Homo sapiens: one gene and its partner. Each later gene encodes a partner of the first gene's protein in a complex. Each region holds a gene or a part of one and is shown in the gene's direction. Other genes may lie near its edges.

Region 1 (3,820 bases):
CTGATGGTATATCTTAATTGTAAATATAATACACTGAGTTTTCCTGTTATCTTTGGGGGAAAAGAAATCTGTAGCCATTGTAAGTTTTTAATTATATATTTCAGGAGAGAATTATTTTTAGTATTTTGAACAGTTGATAGATGTTAATAGGATTATTGAGTAACTATTAGGAAAATAGAAAGTTAAGGTAGTCCCTCAATAATAGTCAACAGATTATTTAAATATATCTTATTCTTGCAATTGCTTTTTAAAAAACAGACTTGTATTTATTTAAAGCGTTTTAAATTTTTTGGTAGGCTCTATTGATCCTGCCTACCTTGCCCCTTTTTCATTTATTTTTAATTTTTATTTTCCTGTATGTCATGTGATTTCAGCACTTCCTGTTTGATGAATTGCAGTTTCTGGTGTTTATATTCTCACTGCACTCCCACCTAGTAGTCTCTTACATTTCATTTTCTTCCTTTCCCAGTTCATCACATTTTTCTTTCTCATACACTAGGATTTGTATGTAAGTACACTAGGATTTGTATTTAAGTAATTTCACTACTCAAGTCTTTGCCATCAATTATAATGAACTGTTATAAGTTGTAGTTCATGAGAAACATAAACAGAGATGGATGGTAATGGTGTAAAGAAGTATTTGTTTTTAATCAGCATAAATTAAAGAAAAATATATTAACCAAATGTGTAATTTAAAGCTTTAGATGATTTGGGATACTGTTCAATGGTGTACTTTTTACAGTGTCTATATTTGCTTAGTCTTTGTTTTGAAATAACTTAGTATGCTTTACTAAGTCTTAAAGTATGAAGTAAAATTTAAATGTGTTAGTTACTGGAAGGGTTTTATTTTTGCTGAGATTAAAGCTTTCAACGAGAAAAGTCATCTGGGTTTTGATTCTGTTTTCTGATAGTACTATATGGCAGTGATTTGGGCCTTAATCTATCAAAATGAATACTACTCCTGGCTTATCTGGGGGAGTAGTAAATAGGGGATCTAAAAACCCTGCACAAATTTAGAACCCGGAATTGTTGATTTTAGTTTGCCAGACATAGTAATTGAATTGGGGAGTATGTCAGGAACTGTCCTACGCACTTTATATATTTCTTTTTTTTTTTTCTTTTTTTTTTGAGATGGAGTCTTGCTCTGTCTCCAGGCTGGAGTGCAGTGGCGCCATCTCGGCTCACTGCAAACTCCACCTCCCGGGTTCAAGCAATTCTCCTGCCTCAGCCTCCCAAGTAGCTGGGACTACAGGCCCACGCCTCCATGCCCAGCTAATTTTTGTATTTTTAGTAGAGACGGGGTTTCAACTTGTTGACCAGGATGGTCCTGATCTCCTGACCTTGTGATCAAGGTCACTTAAATACGAATGCTAGTGTACTTAAATACAAATCCTAGGTGGCCTGTGACTGTAATCCCAGATACTCTGGAGGCTGAGGCAGGAGAATCGCTTCAACCCCGGAGTTGGAGGTTGCGGTGAGCCTAGATCGCGCCACGGCACTCCAGCCTGGCGACAGAGCGAGACTCTGTCTCAAAAAATAAATAAATAAATGAATAAGTAAATAAATAAAAGACCTTCAATCTCCCAGGTCAAAAACAGGAAAGAGAAGATCTTCCTCAATAGAAGATGGACTCTTGAGAATGTGGCTCTTACCTTTATCCTTGTATGCACAGAACCTGATAATAGTGCTCAGCAGGTAGTATGCACTCTGAAATGTTTTTTAATTGAATTAAATAGATGACATTAACACAGCTAAAGAAAGGCTGTATCTGCAGAAATGGAATGGATGGTCAGTCAGCACTGAACATTGAAAAAAGTGAAAAGCAGAATTCGGCAATGTTCATATACTGCTGTACAAAGGAAAAAGGTACATCATCTGGGGTTCATGAAAATTCTGGTAACTAGAAAGGTAATCTCTGTCGAGGGGTAGGAATATTTGAACAATCCTGACTGTGGCCTGGCTGAAACATCTCTATCCCTTTGCCTGATTTCCATGTTCATCAGGCATCTATTCGTAACACTTATTTAGCTTCCTGATAACAAGTTTTGATGTACAGGTGACAGTGCAGATAAGGACGTGTTCACTTTGAAAGCTGTATTCTCCATTGTAGACTAATAAACGGACATGGGCAGGATTATGATCAGTAGTCTTAAAAATATGATCAGAGCCAGTCACGGTGGCTCATGCCTGTAATCCCAGCACTTTGGGAGGCTGAGGCGGGCAGATCACGAGGTCAGGAGTTCGAGACCATCCTGGCTAAGATGGTGAAACCCTGTTTCTACTAAAAATACAAAAAAAAAATAAGCCGGGTGTGGTGGCAGGAGCCTGTAGTCCCAGCTTGTCAGGAGGCTGAGGCAGGAGAATCTTGTGAACCGGGGAGGCAGAGGTTGCAGTGAGCCGAGATCGTGCCACTGCACTCCATCCTGGGCGACAGAACAAGACTGTATCTCAAAAAAAAAAAAAAAATCTGATCGGTATGATTATATATAGATTTTTGAGACAGAGTCTCACTCTGTCGCCCAGGCTGGAATGCAGTGGCGCGATCTCAGCTCATTGCAACCTCTGCTACCTGGGTTCAAATGATTCTCCTGCCTCAGCCTCCTGAGTAGCTGGGATTACAGGCATGTGCCACCACACCTGGCTAATTTTTTTGTATTTTTAGTAGAGACAGGGTTTCACCGTGTTAGCTGGGATGGTCTCAATCTTCTGATCTCATGAACCGCCCGCCTCGGCCTCCCAAAGTGCTGGGATTACAGGCGTGAGTCACTGTGCCTGGTTGATAATATATTTCATAATGAAAATTAATCAAATATAATTCTGGTGTATAAATACTTTCTGAGTTTGGTTGGAGGTTCTTGGACCTGAATATCTGAGAGAACCTAGAGTATGGACTGCAATGAGTTCACCAAGATAATGTCTTTCTATTCTGATCCCTTCCCTCTTCATATCCAGCATTTATGCCTGTATAAACCCACAAATTTCTTTAAAACTTCTTCCACTACCAACACAAAATTTGGGTGTAAAAGAGAGCATTGTGTTACTTTTGTAATGATATCACTTGAGATACTTTCTGCTTTAAATTGAAGTATTAAGTGCATAGCCTGTATTATATTAGTCCCTTATAAATCTTAGTTTTCTTCCTCTAGTTCGCTTATGACTGTATTTGAATTATGTAGAAGATTTTTTTTTTGAGACAGAGTCTCGCAGTGTCGCCAGGCTGGAGTGCAGTGGTGCGATCTCGGCTCACTGCAACCTCTGCCTCCTGGGTTCAAGCAATTGTCGTGCCTCAGCCTCCCAAGTAGCTGGGATTACAAGCACGTGCCACCACACCCAGCTAATTTTTGTATTTTAATAGAGAGAGAGTTTCTCCATGTTGGTCAGGCTGGTCTTGAACTCCCGACCTCAGGGGATCCGCCCTCCTCGGCCTCCCAAAGTGCTGGGATTACAGGCATGAGCCACTGCGCCTGGCCGAAGATATTCTTAATTTAAAAAAAAAGATGTTCCTACAAAATTCAGTTTGGGGATAAATACTAACCATATGTAAAGAGTACTGGGGAACTGTTGATGTTTAGATTGGAGAGGACTAGAAAATGACAGAGCTTGTTTAGAAGATTACAGATTTCAAAGTGCAGAAATTACTTTGTGAATTACCAAATGTGAGCTAAGCTGTGTTATGTTAGTTTAGAATATAGCTCATCAGACTTTATGCTGTTCAAATAGCTGGTTCTTTCTCGTTTAAGTTTAGGCTTAAATACCACCACCCTGTAAGGGTTTGAGAAAACTTTGCTGACCATTCTAAGTAGGTTCCCTCTATCAGTGT
Region 2 (3,820 bases), on another chromosome or scaffold:
GTCTAAAGGGAAGGTAGAATTTTTGAGGATATCAAGATAATCTAGAATCAGGAATAAAATGGGGTGGCCAAAGAAGGGGCAAACTGTAGTTGGGAGTGCTCGGGTAGCCCAAAGATCTGCGTATCTCGAGAGGAGAGGCTAAATGCTAAGGTACCTCTGCTGCTGCTTTTAGGATGTGGACTTGGAGTTCCTGGCTAAAATGACTAATGGCTTCTCTGGAGCTGACCTGACAGAGATTTGCCAGCGTGCTTGCAAGCTGGCCATCCGTGAATCCATCGAGAGTGAGATTAGGCGAGAACGAGAGAGGCAGACAAACCCATCAGCCATGGTGAGTCTGCATCCTTTCCCCAGATGTGCCAATCATGGAGAGCCAGGCAGCAGCCACCACCATGCCCTGGAGTTGAGAGTAGAAGCTGTTGGAAAGATCATCTAACTGAGAAGAATTTTAATAGGGCATCAAAGATAAAGAATGCTGAGGTGAATCCATTCAATTTGGAATAAGGCCGAGAAGAGATGGTCAGGCTCCATTCTCAGTCTGAACCAAGCTCCATGAGGGAAATCAAAGTATGAGAGTGCAGCAAACACAGCAAGGTTTTTTTTGTTTTTTGTTTTTTGTTTTTTTTTTGAGACGAAGTCTCACTCTGTTGCCCAGACTGGAGTGCAGTGGCACGATCTTGGCTCACTGCAACTTCTGCCTCCCAGGTTCAAGCGATTCTCCTGCCTCAGCCTCCCGAGTAGCTGGGACTACAGGCACATGCCACCATGTCCGGCTAGTTTTTTGTATTTTTTTTTTAGTAGAAACGTGGTTTCACCACGTTAGCCAGGATGGTCTCGATCTCCTGACCTTGTGATGTGCCCACCTCGGCCTCCCAAAGTGCTGGGATTACAGGCGTGAACCACAGAGCAAGGTTTTGAGCTGAGATGAGACTCATATACTTATCCCTGATGGTTGGGGAAGGGATAGGGTCCACAGACCTCCCAAAATGAAAAGGCAAATTCATGTGTTTGTAAGTTCCATAAAGGTAAGATCTCTGTCATCTCACTTGTTTTCCACTATGTCTTGTGTTACCCTTAATTAATTCATTAAGTTCCAAACATGGGACTTAATGAGCAAATAAATGGCTTTCTTTCCCTTTTGAAGGGTCTGTGACATCCCTTCTCTCTCCCATAAAAGCTTAACAACTACTGATGAACTAATCCTAGGAGGTAGTCACATAAGTCACAGAAATTGGCCTCTCAATGGAAGAGATAGGTTTTGAGCTGGGCTGTGAAGAGAGTAGAATTTGAATAAAGGGAATAAGCAGCCCAAATAATGTGCTCTAGTAGTAGGATTGCAATCATTGGGAAACCCTGGGTAGATTTAAGAGTATATATGTCACTGGAAGTGAGACCGCTAGGTAGGATGTAATCCAAATGTGGTAAGCACTGAAAGCCATTGGCATTTCCTTTTAAAGTATTAAGGTTTATTAAGGTATGATATAAATACAATAAAATTCACTCTTTCTATATACCATTTCCATGCTTTATGACAAGTGTGTGTAAGTTCTATAACTACTACCACAGTTGAGACTTAAAATTTCTACTATCTCAAAAAGTTTCCTTAGCCACTTCAGTCAACATCTCCCCTCCTTAAGCCCCATCACTGATGTGATTTCTGTCCCTACAGTTTTCCCTTTTCCAGAGTGCATTGACAAGTTTTTAAGCAGAGCAGTGACTCAATTTTAGGAAGCATGGCCTAGCATCTTACCTCAGGTTGGATTGGAAGGGCAAGGAGACCAATAAACTGCAGTAATGGGAGGCCTGGGATGAAATCCAGGCTGGGCTTTAACTAGCCCTAGTGATCTGTGTTTACCAACTATAGGAGGTAGAAGAGGATGATCCAGTGCCTGAGATCCGTCGAGATCACTTTGAAGAAGCCATGCGCTTTGCGCGCCGTTCTGTCAGTGACAATGACATTCGGAAGTATGAGATGTTTGCCCAGACCCTTCAGCAGAGTCGGGGCTTTGGCAGCTTCAGGTAAGTTGGTTGGGAGCATTAGACAGTGCTTAAGTTACTTTGGGGACCTACACCAAAAGGGATGGGAGTCCTAAGGAAGCTAGAGGGGTAGTTGTGGAAATCTTACACAGGCCCTGTCCTAACCCTCTTTTTTGGCTTTGCTCTTGTACACAGATTCCCTTCAGGGAACCAGGGTGGAGCTGGCCCCAGTCAGGGCAGTGGAGGCGGCACAGGTGGCAGTGTATACACAGAAGACAATGATGATGACCTGTATGGCTAAGTGGTGGTGGCCAGCGTGCAGTGAGCTGGCCTGCCTGGACCTTGTTCCCTGGGGGTGGGGGCGCTTGCCCAGGAGAGGGACCAGGGGTGCGCCCACAGCCTGCTCCATTCTCCAGTCTGAACAGTTCAGCTACAGTCTGACTCTGGACAGGGGGTTTCTGTTGCAAAAATACAAAACAAAAGCGATAAAATAAAAGCGATTTTCATTTGGTAGGCGGAGAGTGAATTACCAACAGGGAATTGGGCCTTGGGCCTATGCCATTTCTGTTGTAGTTTGGGGCAGTGCAGGGGACCTGTGTGGGGTGTGAACCAAGGCACTACTGCCACCTGCCACAGTAAAGCATCTGCACTTGACTCAATGCTGCCCGAGCCCTCCCTTCCCCCTATCCAACCTGGGTAGGTGGGTAGGGGCCACAGTTGCTGGATGTTTATATAGAGAGTAGGTTGATTTATTTTACATGCTTTTGAGTTAATGTTGGAAAACTAATCACAAGCAGTTTCTAAACCAAAAAATGACATGTTGTAAAAGGACAATAAACGTTGGGTCAAAATGGAGCCTGAGTCCTGGGCCCTGTGCCTGCTTCTTTTCCTGGGAACAGCCTTGGGCTACCCACCACTCCCAAGGCATTCTTCCAAATGTGAAATCCTGGAAGTAAGATTGCACCTTCTTCCTCTCCTGATCAACATCGGTATGATGTCTCCTGTTGCCTCACCCTTTGTCTGCAGTATCACTGGATAGGACTGGTGGAAAGGGAGCAGCCTGACAGAGCTCCAAATGTGGAGAATATGGCATCCCTCCACCTATATTTGATGTGGACGGTAAGGCTAGGCCTGCAGGATCCCTTATCCTGACCAAAGACTGTGTTGGGGTGCCATTTGAAAATCGCAGGGTTGCAAAAGAATACAATCTTACTTGCAGGTGGATATTCTCTATACTCTCTTTTAATGCATCTAAAAATCCCAAACATCCCCTGGTTGGTGATCACTTACAGTTGTGTCCACCTTTATTTTATGTACTTTGATTAAAAAAAAAAAACTTTTTGTTAATATAAAATTTTAGTATTGAATTTTTTTTTTTTCCAAACAGAAAATAGACTATCCTCTTCAACAGTAATCACTTAGTGCTTCTAGGGTCAGTACAGTGATGCCTTACCCAGAGAGAGAGTAGTGCAGAGAAAATAAATTACTAAATTAAATATATGTTGATTGGCTTTGGGACATAATCTCAAAAGACAGTCCTGAACACCGTAATTTTGAATAAAATACTGTAATCTCCAAAGATCAAAATCCCTAAAGTCTAAAATTCTGAAAATCACAATCCCAAAAGGTCAAAATCCCAAAATACAATTCTGGAAGAAATACTAAACATTCTTCGAAAATTTACTTACATTTTTAAAAGCGTATTTATTTGAGAAACAACACAACAGAACGTTTCATAGGCCACTACACGATAAAATAGGGAATAGTAACATTTTTGCAAGATAAACACTCAGGTATACCAATGACAGTTGCACGGATATAACGGTGATGAGCAGATGAAACATTC

The links.
Region 2: the proteins of VCPIP1 (region 1) and VCP are in contact, whole or in part, in a cryo-EM structure (PDB 9DIL), measured with the Homo sapiens proteins. Residues at the interface, in NP_079330.2 of Homo sapiens: Trp609, Ser620, Asn621, Val622, Tyr623, Asp624, Gln645, His649, Leu652, Thr655, Ala656, Lys657; in NP_009057.1 of Homo sapiens: Asn589, Asp627, Asn750 (codon at 1,949), Arg753 (codon at 1,958), Lys754 (codon at 1,961), Met757 (codon at 1,970), Phe758 (codon at 1,973), Gln760 (codon at 1,979), Thr761 (codon at 1,982).

What each region holds. Positions count from the first base shown.
Region 1 is NC_000008.11:66,660,412-66,664,231, reverse strand, and holds part of VCPIP1 (deubiquitinating protein VCPIP1), read left to right. Parts: intron 1-3,820. UniProt on the Homo sapiens protein: Deubiquitinating enzyme involved in DNA repair and reassembly of the Golgi apparatus and the endoplasmic reticulum following mitosis. Necessary for VCP-mediated reassembly of Golgi stacks after mitosis.
Region 2 is NC_000009.12:35,055,572-35,059,391, reverse strand, and holds the end of VCP (transitional endoplasmic reticulum ATPase), read left to right. Parts: intron 1-172; coding exon 173-328; intron 329-1,861; coding exon 1,862-2,016; intron 2,017-2,169; coding exon 2,170-2,275; 3' UTR 2,276-3,328; downstream 3,329-3,820. UniProt on the Homo sapiens protein: Necessary for the fragmentation of Golgi stacks during mitosis and for their reassembly after mitosis. Involved in the formation of the transitional endoplasmic reticulum (tER).